Regions from separate parts of the Homo sapiens genome. Here region 1 is linked to region 2. The links come from fine-mapping of genetic effects on gene expression. A gene starts in region 2. The other region holds a variant in brackets. All regions are shown on one strand. Distances are from middle to middle.

Region 1 (5,388 bases), 570 kb before region 2:
AGAATGAGATCCTGTCATTTGCAACAACATGGATGGAACTGGAAGTCATTACGTTAAGTGAAATAAGCCAGGCACAGAAAGACAAACATTGCATGTTCTCATTTATTTGTAGGAACTAGAAAAATTAAAACAATTGAACTCACAGTGGTAGAGAGTGGAGTGATGGTTACCAGATGCTAAAAATGGTAATTTGGGTGGTGGGGGGAGTGGGAATAGTTAATGGGCTCAAAAATGTGGTTGGAATGAATAAGATCTAGTATTTGATAGCACAATATTATGACTAGAGTCAGCAATAATTTATTGTACCTTTTAAAATAACTAAAACCGTATAACTGAATTATGGGTAATACAAAGAAAGGAAAAATGCTTGAGTTGATGAACACCCCATTTACCCCAAAATGATTATTACACTGCATGCCTGTGTCAAAATATCTCATATACTCTACAAATATATATACCTACTATGTACCCCAAAAAACTAAAAATTAAAATAAAAAAGAGATATCTATGTGGAGAAATGGAATAACAGCAATGGGAGAAAAGAATAAAGAGATGGTCATAATATTAAAATGGAGATAAAAAAGAATAGGTCTAGAATATTCATTTAAACATGTTTGATTTAATATAATTTTTACTACTCAAATAGAATTGCACTCAGCCATTCAGTATAAAAAAGAAAAAGTGTTTTCACAAATTCACTGAAATTACATATTGAATTTGCCAAGCTTTGATATGTAGAATGAATTGCACTTGTGTTCGTTGTGGCTTCTCCACTTTAAAACATATCCCTCCACTGTGGTCCAGTCCTCATATCACCCTACTTTCCAGAGGACTTGCTTCTATACATATTTACTTAGCAGGAGTCAGCAAACTACATCTTATGTGCCAAAGCCAGGCTTCTGAATATTTTTGTTCAGCCTGAAAGCTAAGAATGGTTTTCACATTTTTTATCGTTTTTTAGAAAAGGAAAAATAATATTAGTAACACATGAAAATTGTATGAAACTCAAACTTCACTGTTTGAAAACAAAGTTTTATGGAGACATAGCCATGTCCATTCATTGATGTATTGTCTATGGCTGTTTTCCTGCTACAGTAGCAGAGTGTAGTAGTTGTAACGTAGACCTTATGAACGAAGACTTAACTATTTTACTCTCTGATCTTTTATAAAAAAAAAAAATTGTGACCCTTTCTATAAAGTGAATAGGAAATTTCAGCTGGGCACAGTGGTTCACGCCTGTAATCCCAGCACTTTGGGAGGCCGAGGTGGGCGGATCACGAGGTCAGGAGATCGAGACCATCCCGGCTAACACGGTGAAACCCCGTCTCTACTAAAAATACAAAAAATTAGCCGGGTGTGGTTGCAGGCTCCTGTAGTCCCAGCTACTCGGGAGGCTGAGGCAGGAGAATGGCGTGAACCTGGGAGGGGGAGCTTGCAGGGAGCCGAGATCGGGCCACTGCACTCCAGCCTGGGCAACAGGGCAAGACTCCATCTCAAACAAACAAACAAACCAACAAACAAAAGTTAACAGGAAATTTCTCTGAGGAGGTAAAGTTGAACAGACACAGGAACGACTGTGATTGAATCAGGGAACCAGTGCAACATAAAAAGGTAGGACCCCTTGTTTCAAGAGCAGGTACAAAAACTTTTTTCTTTTTCCCATGTTCTCTCTCTAGATCTGTTATGGTGTTCTTTTATTTGCTACTTAACGTATTGCTCCCTTGGTCATGGAAACACTCACAGGGTGAGGGCAGATTCTTACAGGAATGCAGTGGCTCTGCCCTGCAACTCAGTAAGTGCATCTGACCTTGACCCTTCCCCACACTCATGGTCTCACTACTGCATCAGCAGTTTCTGGGCAGGCCAGGGGCACCTGGGTTGGAGGAGCAGGTGGAAAAGAATTTTACTCAGTAAAGAAAGTAGAAATAGGGTGGAAAGTGGGAAAACAGTTAAGTCAAGATTCCAAGCCCCAACACATGTTCAATTTTCCCATAAACCGCCTTACAAAACCCTGGGCCAGGAGCACCAGGGTTGGGGGAGCTGCTAGAGTCCCCAGTGTCTACTGTTCCCATCTTTATGTCTGTGTGTACCCAATGTTTAGGTCCCACTTATTAGTAAGAATGTGTGGTATTTGGTTTTCTGTTTCTGTGTTAATTCACTCAGGATAACGGTCTCTAGCTACATTCATGCTGCTGCCAAGGACATGATTTCATTCTTCTTTATGGCTGCATAGTATTCCACAGTGTATATGTACCACATTTTCTTTATCCAATCCACTACTGATGGGCACTTAGGCTGATTCCATGTCTTCTCTATAGTGAATAGCACCGCAATAAACATATGAGTGCAGGTGTTTTTTGGTAGAAATATTTATTTTCCTTTGGGTCTATATCAACCTGGGATATTTTGTGTGATACATATGA[C/T]GAAAATATTTAATTCTAAATATTTTTTTCTCAAAATGATAGCCTACTGTCCCAATACCATTATTTATCCACTGATTTGAAATGTCACCTTTATCATATACTAAATTTCCAAATAGAGATTGGGCTTGCATTTTTGGACTCGACTATATTCCCATTGATCTATTTGTCTATTCCTGTACTAACATCACACTCTCTTACTTACTGTATGGCTTCTATTTCTAGAGCTCCTAGTGCGTGGATATTGGATCTCTTTGACCCTTCCTGTTTTATATACTGGGAGTATTCTACAGTTCATTGTCCTAAAGAACCTTCATTAATTTGCTAGGAAATACTTATTGACCATTATCAGCTGTGTGGTCAGGCGCTGTTGTAGCCTCTGGGGATACATCAATGAACAAATAAGATAAGGCACATAATTTTAGGCATTTTGTTTTAACTTTTGGTGTGATTATGCTATTTTTAATTTTAAAAACTTTTCTTTTTTTTCAAGTATTCCATTTTTAAAATAGCCTGTTATTAACTTTATAAGTTCAATCACCTCTCAAATCTTTCTGAGGATACTGATTAGAGTCTTTTTCTGGCATTAAGTCAGTTTTCTTAAAGGTTCCTTACTTTGTTCATTAAGCCTGGTTTCTCTCTTTTTGGTTGTTAATTTTTCCTCAACCATCTGGTGTCTTGGTCAAGCACTTTTTATACCTAGGGCACTGTCCCCACATTAGGAGCTTCAGGGGGTCCTTCACCTTCCTTAGATACTTATTACCATCTGGTGGGCAAACAACAAAGCTGATTGCTCCACATAGGAGATGCTAAGGTTCTGGTTGCCCTGTCCACTCCCTGGCTTTGATAACCATGCCCTGTTGCTCAGGCTTGAGATTCTTCGCAGAGGTCTAATGAGGATGTCAAATCCACTCATTGTTCCAGTGACATCTTCCCCTCTTCCACCAGTGTTGGATGGTGGGCTTTTTCCTCTTGTTTTGTCTAAATCTAGCAATATTTGATTTTATCTTTTAGAATTTCGCAAATGCCTCAGGTAGTAACTCTCCCTGTTTTTCATCACTGCTATGAATTTATTGTTAATTTTGTATTTATTTTTACCATTTTGATTGCAAGTAAGGAGGAGGAAAATGTAAACACTTGCGATCCACTCAGCTTTATCAGTTAGAATTCTCATATTTCTCTGTCTTGATCACTTTGAAGACTGTATATAAGAGATTTGAGGAAGTCTGGACAACTCGAAGAAAGTAAGTATCATTGCCATTTCATCACAGATGTCATGCAAATGGAAAATTATTATATTTTCTTGATTTTTCAATAAATGGAAAACAATTTTAAGTGAAGTACAATTTTTTGGTTGTTATGAATATGATGTTAATGTGATCAAGACTTGCTCTAAAGATGTAGAACTCCTTATCTTCAGGTAGGCAAATGCAATTCTTCTGCTTTATAGATTATGGCCAAACATAGACAAAAAATATATGATCACCACAAGGGAGTTAAAGAAGTCGTGAGTGAGTATTGAGTATTTAAGAGACGTGGACATTCTTCTAGGCACTTGAAATTTGTTGTCTCATTGAAGCCTATAATGTTAGTATCAAAAGTAGCTATTACTCTTTCCATTTTATAGACTTGAGATTCACAGATAATCTCAGTTAAGTGGGAGAGCTGAAATTAAAGTTAAGTGGGAGAGATGAAATTAAAATTAAGCGGGAGAGATGAAATTAAAACACAAATCTAGTGAATTTCAAATTGATTGCATTTTCCCCGAAAGACACCACACTATAGGTAAAGCAAAGAGAAGCAAACATATTTACAAGTAAAGCCAAGAGCCTAATAACTCTTGAGTTTCTCATCTTTATATCAACGCACAATTTTCCTACTCTTCAGTCTATTGGTAGCATTGATTTTTTTAAAAATCTACATTGTTTCAAAAGCTGTTGAAATAAAACGCAAGTGGGTGGAAAATGGGAATAAATAGTATCTAATTCTGCTATGCATTAAACTCTTACAGTCACTACATTTTTTATAAGAGAAAGGCAGAAAATTTTTAAAAATCTTTATATCTCCTGACTTTAGCTCTTCATTTCATTTTTATATAGAGGTATCTGACTATGAAATAATATGCATACTCATCTTCTATTTAAAAAGACAAATTATAAAACAGACTGTAGGGACTCTGTACTGCTTCTCAGACACTGCAATCCCACATAGGAGCAAGGTCAGATTTACTGATACAGGCAACTGTCCAAAGCAGCTCTTCTCCTGCTAGCTGTTGATGTTCTCTTCCTCTCTGCCAGCTCCATAACAAGGGCCCTCACCCGGTGCACCACCCTCGCCCACACACACACCCTGACCGAGGCCCTGAGAGTTCCAGGTTCCTGCACCTGCCTTTCCTGCCCAGGGCTTTTTGAGAACAGACAGTTGCTCTCAAGCCCAGGGCTTTCTGAGAGCAGACAGTTGCTCTTGAGCCCTTCTCTGAGGTCCTCTGAACACCCCTACTCCACCATCAATCAGAGCAGTTATACTTTTTTTTTTTGCTTTTACCTATTAGGTTTCTGTTAGGTTGAAACATATGAAACTGCTGATATTCAACCGTATTACCTGCAAAAATAGCAATTTCATATAACTCAGCCTACATAAACTTTTCTTTTAACAGAGTTCTCTGGCTAAATAATTTGAAAACCATTTCTCTAGGCCTTAAGTGAGCCTGACATTTTGCTGGCCCCAGTAAAATTGAACTCTTTCCCTTCTTAGACATCACTAGTAAGAGTATAAAGACACATGCACATGTATGTTTATTGCAGCACTATTCACAATAGCAAAGACTTGGAACCAACCCAAATGTCCATCAATAATAGACTGGATAAAGAAAATGTGGCACAGATACACCATGGAATACTATGCAGCCATAAAAAGGATGAGTTCATGTCCTTTGCAGGGACATGGATGAAGCTGGAAACCATCATTC
Region 2 (5,388 bases):
AATTTCAAATTATTCTTCATAGCAAAAAATGTTCAGATTGGCCTGTCTAAATTGGCCACATACCTTTAAACTTTTGTGAATAAAACAGATTCAATGAATGAGACTTAAAATGTTGTAAAACAAATCTGAATCACAGATTTTCAAATCTTTGCCATTATTAATTAAGTGACCATGGGCAAGTCCTTAATCTTATCTTTTTATTCCTTCATCTGTGAAATGACAATGGACCTCCTAAGGCTGACACAAGAATTGAATGAGATGACACGTGTAAGCACTTAGCATAGGGTCTGACACCATTATTACACAACCCAGGTAATAAAGCAAGCGGGGAAAAAGTGCCAAACATATTCTACAGTTCCTTCTAAAACATTAAGAAATTTCAAAGTGTCATTATGTTTGACGGGGGACACATTTTCCATTATCCTGCCAATAAATTTCTGATGACAATCATTTTTGAAATAAAGTGACAACTAAATAAAATGTGCCTTCTTAGGAATGTCATTTTATGCAAATGATTGCCCAAAGAATACAATTTCAACTCTCATTTTCTTCAGACACTATTCAGTATAAGATGGATAAAAGCAAGTTTAAAGGTTATTGGTTTTGTTTGTGATTTTTACAACTTGGTTCGAAGTACTCTAATAAACACATGTTGTTTACTTTTGTTTTCTATGTGCAATCTTTGTTGTAGAGCTACTACTACTACTACTACACCAGCAAAAGAGAAAACCTCTCACTCAAGATATACACTGTGGGTCACTATTTTGATACTTTAGTGTCCACTAACATTAAATACTTGGTGTTTTATCCCTAAAACTTGACATCTATTCTTTAAAAAAAAAAAAAAAAATCACAGCTGGGAAAGGAGTATTTAAAGGATGTTTGCTTTTGAGTTTTGTCACAAGGAGTGTTTTTAAAATACGATTTATCACAATAAAATTAAGTGAAATTCTCACTGTTCTCAAATAATTCCTCATGTTTTCCCGAAGAAATTGTTTATTTTGAGAAAATTCTTTCAGCATACCAGTTTTTAGACATAATCATTTTTATAACTGATGGATCCACAGCAAACGTTGTTATTTTACGTGTAACTTAAAACTGTAAAGAGATAAATTGCTTTCACATAAACTACATGTGACTACAGGCAATTATTAGAGCTGCAATCTGAAATATGCACACATTGTCTACCTGTGTTTGAAAGAGAAGATTATTTAACAAGGGAGTACACACAAGTCATCTCTATGACCTATTGAAAAAATGTCCCATAAATATTCATTCTTCTGACATGAACTATCATTCCAATAAAATGTCACTGTCAACGAGTATATAGAATAACATATGGGGCTTTTTAAAATCCCATCGACTATTTTTCAACTCAATTTATTTCACTGTAATAGAAACTTTCCATTTTCCCTTTTAGCTAGCCCTATAATTAATTGCACTGTCTGACCACCACAACCTATGAGAACTTGTGTAAAGAACGCAATGTCATCACCCAAAAGTTTCTATTAAGCACTTGTCAAGGGTAGCATGGAACAGTTTTTAAAAAACCAGGGAAATCACTTGGGCTTTCTAAAATTTTTACAACTATAGTTGGGTTATCCAAGAGATGTTTTAAGGCGAAGATATGAATGACAATTGATGACTCCAAAAATACCCAGGATAAATTGGATAGCCACGATTTTAGAAACTAAAGAGCTTCCCTTGAATTGTATCTAGTGAATACTCTCCAGGCTTCCTCCCTCCCAGTTGATTTCATTTGTCCATCAATACAACTTTTAATAGTTTCTCAAGTATGGAAATCAACCCCGCTATTTCCAAGGTACTGCTGAATGAAGACCTTGACATTTTTTTTAAATGTCATCTTAGAAAGATTCTCCAAGCAATACCAGTCTCACCTACGACATCTTCACGTTAAAAGGCCTCTACCGTACTCCATATACAGTATCCCAATACCAACCTGGCATCCTTCATCCTGAGCTATAACAACCAAGTTTCACTCAGCTATGTCCAGGTAACTGAAAGTATTGCTGGGGCTGCCTAACCTGCCCCATCAAGTTTTATACACACCCTGTGCTGAAGACATCTCACCAGAAAGAAGGTTCACTCACTTCATTTTGTGGGATCATAACCCACGGCACAGCAAACGCCTTCTGCAAGAGAAGGTAGGAGCCACCGAAGGCTGTGGCTTTTGCAGGGTAATTGCATGCACGCAAGAGATTCTCTGCCAATTTCATTTAACTAGACAAAAAAGGCTGCGTTCAAAGCTGCAAATATGTAATAAATGTTGATGGAAAGCGGGCGGAACGTCGATTTTCTTCAAGCAACACTAGTACATGTACAAGTTCTGCACCAGGGCTCAGAGGAAAAGTAGCTTACTGACGCATTGATGGAAGGCTATTTTAAAATTACTCAAAGAATCTAAGGCATCAATCTGACTGGGAGGCTCATACCTCCTCTCCATACACGCAGTCTGTTTTCCTACCTAATTTAAGAATGAATCGCTGGCAGCCACCAGGTGCAATAACCGTGAGGAGGAGGACGTATATCCATCACAATGCATAATGAGGTGTGCCAACCCCGGAGCTGGTGCCCGTCCTTACCTTAGCAGATTAGACAGGGGCAGGGGTCCGGATCCACCGCCCAGGATCCCTCCTTTCCTGCCAGACAGGAGTTTCTCCACCAGAGCCACATTTCCAGTGCGAGCAGCTTCCAGCAGCTCCTGGTCCTTCCCCATAGTCTCTCACCGACTCCCCCACAGAGTCCTTGCCCCCCTCGGGTCCTCCTCCCCACCCACCCCCACTCCCCAAAATCCAGGGCCCTCTTCGCCCCACCCTAAAATAATGCAAGAGCTTCAGCACGGAGAGCTCCCTGCAGCCCCAGGCAGGGAGCACGACTCTCTCCTCCTCTTCGGGGCGCAGCTTTTACAATGGGGATCAGACCATGTCTTGAAAGAGGGGCTGGCCGAGCTGGGAGCCGCGACGCGCCCCCACAGCCACTCCCCTGAATTCCCAAGGCCTCGTTCCCGCGGGTGCGGCGTGAGGGGGTGGGGACTCGGGGGTGCTTTTGAGGAGCGGGAGGAGGGTGGTGAGGACTGAGGTCGGAGGAGGAGGAGGAGGCGGCAGAGAGAGTCCTAGCTGGAGCGGGAGCGCAGGGAACACCCGCGGTGGCAGCAGCGGCCCGCGCGCCCTCGCGCCCGACCCGGGCTCGCCTCGGCTTCCTCGGCGGTTACGCGGGGGCGGCGTCCGCGGCGGGGAGGAGCGCGGCGGCGGCGGCGGCGGCTCGTGCGCTGTGGCCCGCGCCGAGGCAGGGCGGTGGGGGGCAGCCGCAGCGGGCGCGTGCCGAGGGCGGCGGCGGCGGCGAGGCCTGGCGCGCGGGGGGCGTGTGCGCGCGGGCAGGTGCGGCCCCTGGTGCGGCCCGAGTTGGGTGGCGGGCTGGCGGGGAGGGGCCGGGCCGGCTGAGGCGGGGCTTCGGCCCTGAGATTCTCTTCGTTCTCGTGGGCGGGGACCCTCCCTCCTCCACTCTCCTTGGAAGAGCGTTAACCGTGTGAGGACTGGAGTTCCCCGGGCCGCGTCGGCTCCTCCTCGGCCCGGCGGGCCCCGGCAACACGCCTCGGGTCTGTCACGACGCCTGAGGAAAATCCTCCGTGACAGGAATGGGGAGGCTGGTGACACTGGGGAGGGGCCCTTTGGCCACCGCTTCCATCAGAGTCTAGGCAACTTGACCGGCATTTCACCCTTCCGCTTTACCTCCCCAAGAGAGCCTGAGATCTGCCCTTGGTTAGAAAGAAGAGGCTCGTTTCGTCCTAGTTTCTGTGGCACTGGCCACCGAGCAGTTTGCGACTGTTTCAGTTTTTCTGGAGTCTTTAATCAGCCCATATTTTAGTTGGGCTTTGGAGATCTGCTGACTTGTAAGAATACCAGGAAAAAGGCTCTCATTGAAAATTTATCCACATCTACACTCGAAAAATATAAATGGGCATGGATTAGAGATCCACTTTAATTTGCATATATCATCAGCAATTCATTGTGCATGGTTGGCATGACTTGTTAGATGCTCTCCTTGGCCGTGGTGGAGAACGCGCGTTTATTTTCTATTAAAACTTCCTGTTACACCTTGTGCTTTGCATTGTCCTTGGAATAGACTTCATAAATGTTCACTTGTTGATAATTGATTGGTAAGAAGAGGACTTAATAGGCACTGTGCTTACAACAACCCAGTGAACTGGATATTATTATATCCATTTTAGAAATGAGGAAATAGGGCTCAAATGGTTAATTAAATTTCTCAAGATGCCACATGGAGTAAGTGGCTGACTCAGAACTAGACCCCAGAACAGACTCACTCCAGACACCATGTGCTTCCCAATATACGTTCCTGCCCCCCATGGAAAAGCGAAATGGACAGACAATAATTATTGCATGCATTTGATGAGTAGTTGCTACATACCAGACACTATGCTAAGTGCTTTCCATGTTCTCATTAAGCCTTGCAACAATCGCATGAGATAGGACCATTTTCATCTCTATTTTGGAGATGAAGAAACTGATTACCCGCAAGATAATAGGGATAGAAAGTAACTGAGCCAAGGCTCAAATCCGGCACTGTCTGCTGTAGGCAAAGATTTTCAATAAATAACTGGGGGAAACTTAAAAGGCATTTAGAGATAAATAACAAGAGTATATTAAAACATTTTTATGGAATTCATTGTGTTCTGAGATTTCATTTCAATGATTCAAAATATTAGGTAAATTATGGCTATTTATTGGAGGTTTCCTGAAGTATGTAGATTTTGGCTAGTGTAGTTTTTTAATTCATTTTGATTTTGTTTTCTGTGTTAGAATCTGTTTTAATAAGATAATCTATGTTATAATAATATAATCCCTGACATAATGGGACTAGCAGACCAATGAAAGAAACGAGATAAGGAGCCATCACATTCATTTTGAAAATGGCATAGGGAAATCCTTCTTCCTTTTTCCTAATGTTGCCACCTAAGCAAAACACACCTTTCCCAGAATATACTGTAAGTATTCAATTGGTCAGAACTGAAAATCACCCACAGTTTTCACAAGCAACATTTAATCATGGATGAGTTGGTGACCGCAGGCCCCGAGTCATCTTATCGAAATCATGCAGCCCCCACCCCCAATGGGAAAACCATTAGTAATGATTTACTCTAAGAATCAGTTCCACAGTTCGGGCATTCTACTGACATATGATAATCAAAGCCAATTTTTCAGCTTCAAACTCTTTGGTTTTAGTGACCTCATAACTTTGTTTTTCTGTAGACATTGCAGTGACTGCACCTCATAGTTTTTTGTTGAAGAGGATAAAGGCTTTGGCTACATGGGGACTAACATGCAAAATAAAAGTGAAAACATTCTT

Evidence for each region. PIP is the estimated chance that this variant, and not a neighbour inherited with it, causes the effect.
Region 1: its variant is the best candidate, but not a certain one, in a credible set for the expression of ANKS1B in cerebellum (GTEx, PIP 0.57).

Annotation. Positions count from the first base shown.
Region 1 is chr12:99,409,174-99,414,561 of GRCh38, forward strand. All of the region lies in intron 11 of ANKS1B (ankyrin repeat and sterile alpha motif domain containing 1B), which reads right to left. Among named protein-coding and RNA genes, the nearest start is that of GARIN6, 240 kb to the right of the region's middle. The variant C/T (reference allele first, on the strand shown) is at 2,424.
Region 2 is chr12:99,981,501-99,986,888 of GRCh38, forward strand. It overlaps ANKS1B (ankyrin repeat and sterile alpha motif domain containing 1B), which reads right to left and starts at 3,436. Exons shown (of 27, transcript NM_001352186.2): 1 at 2,604-3,436. The coding sequence starts at 2,737. RefSeq lists an enhancer at 2,466-3,296 and a silencer at 3,409-3,458.